3 linked regions of the Homo sapiens genome follow. The protein of the gene in region 2 interacts with the protein of the main gene of each other region in a biochemical or structural test. Each region holds a gene or a part of one and is shown on either strand. Other genes may lie near its edges.

Evidence for each region.
Region 1: the proteins of CDH1 (region 2) and FYN form a complex in vitro, tested with the Homo sapiens proteins (one study listed by BioGRID).
Region 3: of the proteins of CDH1 (region 2) and MKI67, one has a biochemical effect on the other in vitro, tested with the Homo sapiens proteins (one study listed by BioGRID).

What each region holds. Positions count from the first base shown.
Region 1 is NC_000006.12:111,863,342-111,866,996, reverse strand, and holds part of FYN (tyrosine-protein kinase Fyn), read left to right. Parts: intron 1-3,655. UniProt on the Homo sapiens protein: Non-receptor tyrosine-protein kinase that plays a role in many biological processes including regulation of cell growth and survival, cell adhesion, integrin-mediated signaling, cytoskeletal remodeling, cell motility, immune response and axon guidance.
Region 2 is NC_000016.10:68,817,260-68,820,914, forward strand, and holds part of CDH1 (cadherin-1 isoform 1 preproprotein), read left to right. Parts: intron 1-2,020; coding exon 2,021-2,166; intron 2,167-3,655.
Region 3 is NC_000010.11:128,099,169-128,102,455, forward strand, and holds part of MKI67 (proliferation marker protein Ki-67), read right to left. Parts: intron 2,534-3,287; coding exon 2,090-2,533; intron 88-2,089; coding exon 22-87; 3' UTR 1-21. UniProt on the Homo sapiens protein: Protein that associates with the surface of mitotic chromosomes and acts both as a chromosome repellent during early mitosis and chromosome attractant during late mitosis.

The sequences.
Region 1 (3,655 bases), on a different chromosome or scaffold from region 2:
TTGAGCAACATAAAGAACAAAAAATGCAGTTGGATTTAGCACTGAAGATATCTGAACCTGCCCAAAGCAGCATCAGGAGAACTAGAGGGGGAGAAGTCTAGAAATCTGTTGCTCCCCAGCCAGGGTAAAAACACATATCAAAGCCTGTAGAACATACAACCATGAAGGACTCTTGCGGTTTTTCATGGGCACAGGCCATGGAATCTTAGAGATCATGTAGTCAACATGTTCATTTTACTCGTGAGGAAAAATGAAGTTAAATGAAGAGGTTAAGCAACTTGTCCAAGATGGCAAAGTCACCAGGTTTCACACCTCTCAGCCCAGGTGTGTGGTGTGGTTAAGAGCATGGGGTTGGGGCCGGGCACGGGGGCTCACGCCTGTAATCCCAGCACTTTGGGAAGCCAAGGCAGGTGGATCACCTGAGGTCAGGAGTTCAAGACCAGCCTGGCCAACACGGCGAAACCTTGTCTCTACTAAAAATACAAAAATTAGCCCGGTGTGGTGGCACAGGCCTGTAATCCCAGCTACTTGGGAGCCTGAGGCAGGCGAATCGCTTGAGCCTGGGAGGCAGAGGTTGCAGTGAGCTGAGATTGTGCCACTGCATTCCATCCTGGGCGAGAGAGTGAGGCTCTGTCTCAAAACAAAAGAAAACAAAACAAAAGCATGAGGTTGGGGTAGGGTCCGGGTTTGACCCTTTCCAGCTGTGTGGGCTGGGCCAAGTTACCTGGTCTCTCTGTGACTCCTTTTCTTCATCTTTAAATGGAGATAGTAGTTCCTGCCTCAGAGGGTTGCTGTGAGGATTCAGTGAGTTAATACATGTCAAATATTCAGAACAGTGTCCTACACATAGGAAAAGCTATGTGTTTGCTGCTGTTGTTAATCCATATGTATGTGTGTATGTGTATATATACACATATGACATACATGCTTTAGGGAAGGGATGATGACAATATATTGTGTGTATGTAAGGAAACTTTGAATATTTTAGAAAGAGATTTGGGTGATTGTCGGTTCTGAATCAAAAATTGTTAGAAAAGTTGGGAAATTTACTTACATGGTATGATTGAAAACAGCATTTTTAGTAAGAAATGCAGCACCTTCATTCTTGAGAACGGAAAACATGAAAGCATTCTGACGTTAACCCTGTAAAAGGGTTTCTTTTAGTCAGATAACCAGAATTTTAACCTATTTACAATGGAAATCCCTCGAGTTTGACTTCAGAATGTCATTGTGACTTTTCTAAAGGTAGAATGAACTATAAAGTAAGAAAAAACTATGGGTTATGACTTTCACACATTTGGCTCCTATGAAAAAAGAGTGATTTGTGTTATTTAGAGGACTATAATAATTTTTTTAGTGTTTCTAGTTGAGCAAATCTAATTTTTAGCTACTAAAACACATGAGAAGCCTGAATGGTATTATCCAAATGGACTTGGGTGACATGCAATATAGACAACTTAGGAATAAGTGACACTGTGGACTTGATTAGAACGCAGTAATCCTGGAAGAATATAAATTGAATTGGATTTATGGTCTAATAAAAACGTGGGAGGAAAAGATAATGCTTACTGACTCATGAAACTTTAACAATGTTTGTAAGACTCCGAGTTGTTGTAATATTTGGTTGAGAGCGCTTTCCCATTTGTCTCAGCCTGCTTCCAGAACAGCCTGCTGTGCACCTCCGTCTGGAAGTGAAGCCTGACTTGGGTCTCCTTCTTGGGTATACTTAGGAAGCAGAGATCATCACATACTCTGCCCTTGTAAACCCATGACCTCGAGCAGCACTTGGTTGGTTTAGGCAAATATGTATTGAGTACCTATTAACTGTAAGAGTTTGGGGGAGAAAAAAGTACCATGGGAAAGTCCTAGCTCATTGCTTATTTGCACTCAGAAAGCTTTTTTAGAGGACTACTTGTTTCTGGCCTTGTATTCTCCTTTCTGTGATACTGCAAAAAAGTAGAGAGCATACCACAGCTACCTACTCCTCCCTGAATACACCATAGAAATAATAGCACCTGCCATTTTATTGAACTCGGAGGCATGTGTTAGGTGCTTACATACAGTCATGTACTTAATCATAGCAACTCTAGGAGGCATGTATTATTATACCCATTAGTCAAATGGGGAGACTGAAGCTCAGAGAGGCAAATGGCTCATGGTCACACAGCTAATAACTAGTGAAGCCAGGTCTGTGTGACTGCTAAACTCTTTCCTGCTTTTGCTCCAGAGCTGTGGTTCCTCATTCCCTGCCTCCTTGCCTTTGCTTTGCAGTTACTTCTGTGTCCTGTGTTGCAGGATGCAGAGGCACCTTTACCCACCGTGGAAGTCTCACCCTTTCTGATGACTCCCCTCAAAACCTACTGCCTCTTGAGAAGCCCTCCCATCTCTCTTACCTCTGGGCTCCCAGAGCACCTGATTACCACCTCATCATCATCCTCATCATAGCCTGATTCGTAAGGCTGAGGGAACCAGCTGGGTAGGACAGTGGGGCAGGCACTGGCCTTTCCCACCGACTTGTGAGCTCTTTGGAAGTCAGGGACTCTATTTTATGATTGATTTGTCAACATAACACCCAGCACAATTCTAGGAGGTACTACCATTATTATCCCATTTAAAAGATGGAAAAACTGAGTCACAGAGGCTAAGTGATTTAGTCAGCGTCACAGAGTAAGTGACAGAGCTGGGATCTGAACACAGCAGTCTGGCTCCAACATCTATGTTCTTCACACTAAATTTGCGCCATCTCTTTAATGAGATTGTAAACTGTGAGGGTGGAGGTGGTGCCCAGCAGCTCCCAGCCTAGTATCTCACAGACTCTGCACAGTAAACATCAGCCCTTTTGTTCTCCTGTCCACCCCAGCAGAGTGACAAACAGAATATATTGAACCAGGTCTTATCGCATAATAAGAAAAGAGCACAAATATGCTGAAGATCTCATAGAATGCATATCCCCAGGCCTCATTTGGATTCAGTGGGTATGGGCCAGGCAGGGCTGAACGCTTCTCATCTTTTCTGTATCTGGGAACAACAGTGAGAAGGGAAGAGTCAGCAGGCAGCTCTGGAAGACAAGGAAGGAAGCAAACATAGGGAGTCCCAACTAGAGTAGTGGGAGCAGGCGGAGAAGTGGTAGAAACCATCAGTCAGCAAGAGTCAGAGAGTGCCGAAGCTTGAGAGGGGCCCGGGATCATAAATCCGCACAGAAAGACCTCTTAACTTGTAATTTAAAGGTTTCTAAGTACCTGTGCCTTTTGAATATGCTGGTGGGATTTTATCTGATGAAGTCAAACACTTTCATTTTCTTCAGAGCTTCCATCTTTGAGGTATCCAAAAATAGTAGGCTTTTCATGGAGTTGTATAAGGATTCCATCTGCTTTATATTGAAAAGTAGGGCTTTAATGGAAAATTAAAAATGAGCCAGATCTCCTTTCCCACAACAAAGCCCAGGGCACTTTTCCCAATCCTTTCTTCTTTTAATCCCCAGAAAGTTACTGAATCTGTATTTCTGTGAAATCCTGCCCAATTTAAATTCTACTGAAAAGGCAAATAAACACCAACAACTTCATTTCCACACAAATGTCATGTCTATTTAGAAGCAATAACAATTTCAAATGTTGTCACTTGTGAAATTTGATTTTTGTTTTAATTTTATTTTTTT
Region 2 (3,655 bases):
GTCAACAGGGCAACCTGCATCTCCAGATGTTCATGACAGGAGAGGAGGTGGCATGTTGCCACCATTTAGGAACTACTGTATTGTTTGGGGGAGCTGGTCTGCAGGAGTCTGCTTTTAAAAATAAATAAGGATTATAGTAATCATTGCTTCAGCAAGAATCATCCACAGATGCCAAATCCATTGGGTGAAAATTAGTTGCTGAACAAGATATTCTCAAATTATCTACCTGCAGATTATAGGTTAATCATGCAGTGAAAAAAGGCACCTTTGCTGTGAAGAAATCTGGTGGCCTTTCCCTTATCCAAGTGATCAAAGTTATCAATAGAAGCACAGACAGACATCATGTGCCTCCCAGTGTCCTGCACTAGGGAGGCCACAGCATCACCTCTGTCCTGTTCTTGCCCCCACCGACCCCTGAAATGGATTACCTGAATCTAAATTTTGAGGAATAATCAGACAAACCCAAGTTAAGGGGCATGCTACAAAACAACGGCCAGCACATTTCAAAAATGTCAGTGACAGAAAAGAAAGACCTAAGGAAGAGCCATGCCAACGAAAGGCCATATTGGATCCTGAATCCAGAAGGGTGCAAGGTTGCTATAAAGGACATTTTTGGAAAATCTGACAATTCGAATATGCACCATATATTCGACAATAGAATTCTATCAAAGTTTTGTTTCCTAAAATTGAAAATCAAGACTGGTCACGGTGGCTCACACCTGCAATCCCAGTGCTTTGGGAGGCCGAGATGGGTGGATCATCTGAGGTCAGGAGATCGAGACTATCCTGGCTAACATGGTGAAACCTCGTCTCTACTAAAAATACAAAAAATTAGCCGGGCGTGGTGGCGGGTGCCTGTAGACCCAGCTATTCAGGAGGCTGGGGCAGGAGAATGGCATGAACCTGGGAGGTGGAGCTTGCAGTGAGCTGAGATCACGCCACTGTACTCCAGCCTGGGCGACAGAACGAGACTCTGTCCCAAAAAAAAAAAAAAAGAAAAGAAAAAAAAAGAAAATCAAATTGGGGTTATATAACAGAATGCCTTTGTTCTTAGGAGATAACACATTGACATATTTATAAGTAAAGGAACATGACTTCTGCAATTTATTTGCAGATGGTTCAGCAGAACAAGAAATTATGTAGGCGTGTGTCAATATAGACAGAGCAGATGTGGCAAAGTATTAACAATGAGTAAACTCAGGTGAAGAGTTCATGGATGGTCATCATACTATTATAGTAACTTGTCTGTTGTATTGTTGGTTTTCTTGGTTTTCTTTTTTTTTTTTTTTTTTTAAAGACGGAGTTTCGGCCGGGCGCGGTGGCTCACGCCTGTAATCCCAGCACTTTGGGAGGCCGAGACGTGCGGATCATGAGGTCAGGAGATCGAGACCATCCTGGCTAAAACGGTGTAAACCGCGTCTCAACTAACAATACAAAAAAATTAGCCGGGCGTGATGGCGGGCGCCTCTAGTCCCAGCTACTCCGGAGGCTGAGGCAGAAGAATGGTGTGAACCCAGGAGGTGGAGCTTGCAGCGAGCCGACATCGCGCCACTGCACTCCAGCTTGGGCTACAGAGCAAGACTCCGTCTCAAAAAAAAAAAAAAAAAAAAAGAAAGAAAGGGTTTCACTTTTGTTGCCCAGGCTGGAGTGCAGTGGTGCAATCTCGGCTCACTGCAACCTCCATCTCCCAGGTTCAAACGATTCTCCTGCCTCACCCTCCCCAGTAGCTGGGATTACAGGCGTGTGCCACCACACCCAGCTAATTTTTGTATTTTTAGTAGAGACAGGGTTTCACCATGTTGACCAGGCTGGTCTCAAACCCCTGACCTCAGGTGATCTGCCCACCTCAGCCTCCCAAAGTGTTGGGATTACAGGCATGAGCCACCGCGACCGGCCTATTGTTGGTTTTCAAAATAAAAACGTTGGAAGTAACCATATAACTGAAGAAGCGCTTAAGCCGTTTTCAGCTACATGTTGTTTGCTGGTCCTATTCTAAAAGCCAGAGCTTGTCCCCGTTCAGATATCGGATTTGGAGAGACACTGCCAACTGGCTGGAGATTAATCCGGACACTGGTGCCATTTCCACTCGGGCTGAGCTGGACAGGGAGGATTTTGAGCACGTGAAGAACAGCACGTACACAGCCCTAATCATAGCTACAGACAATGGTAAGGGGGCCTCATCTGAGCCTTTGCTGCCTCGACCTCCTAGCTAGTTCAGTTCCTTGCCCCTCCCTTCTTTTGGAGGGAAGAGTTCATTCTTTTTCTTTTATCCTTTTTGTTTGCTGGATTGATTTGTATAAATGTATGGAGTACAAGGGTAATTTTGTTACATGCATAGATGTGTAGTGGTAAAGTCAGGGCTTTTAGGGTATCCGTCACCCAAATAACATGCATTGTACCCATTAAGTAATTGTTCATCATCTACCCCCTCCCACCCCTTGGACCCTTCCCAGCTGCCATTGTCTATCATTCCACAATCTACATCCATGTGTACACATTATCGAACTCCGACTTCTAAGTGAGAACATGCAGTATTTCTCCTTATATGTCTGATTCGTTTCACTTGAGACAATGGCCTCCAGTTTCATCCATGTTGCTGCAAAAGATTTCTCTTTTATTCTTAAACAAAGGCATTCTTATTATCAAAAATTCAAGTGGGCTGGGCACGGTGACTCACACCTGTAATCCCAGCACTTAGAGAGGCTGAGGTGGGAGGATCACTTGAGCCCAGGAGTTCAAGACCAGCCTGGGTAACATGGCAAAACCCTGTCTCTACAAAAAGTACATAAATTAGCTGAGTGTGTTGGTGAGCACCTGTAGGCCCAGCTACTCAGAAGGCTGAAGTGGTAGGATTGCTTGAGTCTGAAAGGTGGAGGCTGCAGTGAGCCAAGATTGCGCCACTGCTCTCCATCCTGGGCAACAGAGCAAGACTCTGTCTCCAAAAAAAAAATTGTTTTTTCAAGTAATTTTGGTCAAACAGAACTTACTTTTCACTACTCACTCTTTATTCCTTCCCTAAGGGAACCAGGTAATGATGGTTTACAATCCATTTCCAAAGCTTAATACTTGTGTGACCTTGGATTTGCTGTTTAATTTTTTTTTTTTTTTTGAGACAGAGTCTTGCTCTGTCACCCAGGCTGGAGTGCAGTGGTGCAATCTTGGCTCACTGCAGCTTCCGCCTCCCAGGTTCAAGCAATTGTCCTACCTCAGCCTCCCAAGTAGCTGGGATTACAGGTGTGCACCACCACGCCCAGCTAATTTTTTGTATTTTTAGTAGAAACGGGGTTTCACCATATTGGCCAAGCTGGTCTTGAACTCCTGACCTTGTGATCTGCCCACCTTGGCCTCCCAGAGTGCTGGGATTACAGGTGTGAGCCACCGTGCCTGGCCTGCTGTTTAATTTTTATGTCCCTCAATTCCTTTACCTGAAAAATGTTAATACCCATGTGGGTGAAATTAGTTAGGTGTTAAATCAGTTAGGTGTGGGTCCTTCCAGACTGCTTCTGTGTATTTAAATACATTTATAGGCTGGGTGCTAGGGTCACACCTGTAATCCCAACACTTTGGGGGTCTGAGGTGGGAGATGGCTTGAGGCCAGGAGTTCAAGACTAGCCTGGGCAACATACTGCCCATAATCTCAAAATGCTGGGATTAC
Region 3 (3,287 bases), on a different chromosome or scaffold from region 2:
TTTCCCAGTTCGATTTTTCTGTCAAATATCTTCACTGTCCCTATGACTTCTGGTTCTTATTTTCTTGACACACACATTGTCCTCAGCCTGTGTGGGAAGAAAAAAAATAGAACTCTTAAGTAATTTAAACACCCATTTTTAGAATCGACCTCCTCTGCAAAACCCCAAAGGCTTACTAGGTATTATGCAGGTCCTTAGTTGCAGAAAATTAATTTTGAGGTTGGAAATAAGTTTTAAAATATATTCCATTAACATTGTTTTTCTTGACTTGAACTGCTTTTATTATGCAGTTTTTTTACACTTAAATAATGTGATCTTTTCATACAGAAGTTCCTAATGCATTTTTAAGCTAATTCATAATAAAATTTCTTCATCGATGCACACATTTTCACAAACTAAAAAATGTCACTCAGAAAAAGTGAATCCAACCAGGATTAAGTCTTTTGGGTCTCCTAAACCAAGGAACCCCTGTAGACAGAAGCATGCCCAACTTGCATGCAGGAGACCTGCCTTGGCCTTTACTCTTGCAGTAGTTCTCACCCCTTGGCTAAGGGAGAGGAACCATGGTGAAAAGCATGGCTACAAGCTTCTTACTGGAAAAAATCTATCTTATATATGCATTTTCTAGGACTACCGACACCCACCGAAGAGCTCGGCAAAGAGGAGCATGTGTGTGTTGGGCGTCTCCTGGGTGCTTGTGTGTGAGAAGAGGCTGGAACGCCCCCGGCAGAACACACCAGGCCTGGCTCAGCCTTGGGCCTGGTTGCTCTGTGTTTAGGAATCATCCTAGTTAAAAGATTCGCTTTCACCCTTCTTTGGTTTCATTCTGAGGAAGCAGCACCTTCCAGACTGTGAATTCGGTAAGCGCCTGGAGCCTGCGTTTTATTGTAAGACTCGACGGGTGAACGTGCTGACCCACGTCAGCTGTTGCGTCCCTGGTGTGCCTGTGGTTTCTAGGACCTTGTCTGGCACTGTCGGGTGTCTTCTGCTTCCAGCCTGCCCCAGAAGTACAGTCTCTGACTTAGGACACCTGTGTGGGCATCAGTGCCCTTCTTGAGCCTCTCCTCTTCCCTCTCTGGAACAGTCTATGGGCATCTCCCCACTAGGACTTCCTGCCCACCATCCAGACACACAAGCCCTCCCCCTCCACTGGCTGCCTGGCTATGCAGCAGGTACTGGGGACACCTGGGAATCTTTCCTTTTCTTGGCAGTTGAAGCTTCCTAGTTTGTGCCGAAGAGGGTCTGTCTGGACAGCTGTACTTGCCAGAATTCTGTATCTGAAGAGGTTATTGCTACATGAGTTTCGTTTGCTGAACTCAGAATATGGTAGTTTTAGGTCCAAATTTTGTGTGTGCTAAGAATTAAATTTATATTATATTTTTGTGAATTGCTCACAAAAAGGGAGCAATTCAACCTATTTTTATTTTAGCTAAACCAAGTATTCCCCAGAAGAACACTAATGGAATCTAATCATTCTTATGGATTTGTCCACATGCTTGTAATTATGAGTGGCTCAACTTGATGTGATTTCAGTAGCACTTAAAGTTCATTAGCTTAGATAGTCTCTGGCTGGAGGAGGGTTGGAGGGCAGACGCATCCCCCACTGACCAGGAACTCTCACATAGTGAGCATGTGTCTCAGGGACATCCCAACTTCTGTTCCTTCTGCCTTTCCAAAGAATGCCTTGGAAATTTTTCTGTTTCAATAGTTTTTTTTGGAAAAAGAATTTTCCTGTTTCAAGAGGTGATTTTGAACTACAGAAAGGCTGAAGACATCTACCTACAATTGTATCATGAGGTACATCATAAGCAGTCAGAAATTAGCCACTAGACAAATTCCTTTTCTTTCTGAAGAAAGTCTTCATAACGTGAATTTGCTATTTGAAGTGAAATTCCCAAAGTAGACACAACAAAATATAACTAAAATGACCAAATTTATGTCTTAGCATAATGCTCCTTCCATTAATGTAACTGGGAGCTGGCAGAGTGCTGTTGAAGATAATGCTTTTTGTTTGCCTTTGCAACCTTGGGCAAAAAATACATCAAAACATTCTGTGTCTTTTAAAACAGGGAAACAGTAAATGGCTTACCTTCTTTGGATTTTCTGCACACCTCTTGACACTCCGCGTTACTCTCTGCACAGATTTGCTCTCCAAAGTGCTTGCTGCAGGCTGGCTTTTTGTCTTTCTTGATCTCAGGCACATGGAGTCTGAATTTCCTGCTTCTCCTTTCCCTTTCTGATTCTGCATGAGAACCTTCGCACTCTTCTGCCCTCCGCTCTCCTCTGCCACCTTAGGCTGGGAGCTCTCATTCTGTCTAGCAGACCTCAAGCACCTTTTGTTCTCAGTGACTTTGTCTCTAGGTATGGGTTTCCGGGCTCCATCATCTGGATTCTGAATGTCCATCTCTGGGGAGGTCTTCATGGGCTTCTTTTCATTTCTGTTTATTTCTATTCTTTCTGCTAATACAAAGACCTCAGTTATTTGCTGTTCTGCCTCAGTCTTATTTTGGCGTCTGGAGCGCAGGGATATTCCCTAAAGAAATGAGAAGACATCCACAAAATTCCAATAATTAGTAAAACAAACTTCAAAATTCAACAGGGAGCACAATCAACAGTAACCTAAAAGGAGAAATCATTTGAAAATCACACACTGATGAATTGTCTAAGAGACTTGTCATCTAGGATAGTCAAGGTAATGCCTTGGTACTTTGCTCCTATGGAGAAATGACTGTCTCTGCTGACAAATTATAAATAAGGAATTCAGGATAAATTTCAATAACAATGCCTAATAAGATATATATCAAATCTAATTTTTACAGTTTACATTATAGAAAGAAGGTCCGTTATTCATTCATTTACAGGGAGTAAATGAATTCCTATTCCTTTAACCATCACTGCTAAGGCAGAACAGGAAATTGCCATTTCTGGAGTTTCCCCAAACTTCTCTGCATGCAGTGGGAGCCTCTCTATCTAACAGTCCAGACAGTTTCCCCTTCTCAAGAATACACATTCCTTATTGATATTGTTCTGATAGTTAAAATAGTGACATAGATAGGATTTTTAACCCAGTCCTGGTCTTGGTGACAGTATCCAGAACATAGAACTGAACCACCCACCTATCCTCTGATCAATTTTTTAAACATTTGAAGATGAACATTACTCATTTGGCTTTTGAGAAACTCTTCTAAGTTTGCATTAATCATGTTTGACTAGTTCTTTTCCCATATTAGTCTATTCCCTCTATAGGTCCCAAGAAGATTCTTTACCATGGCCTGCAGTTATTCAGT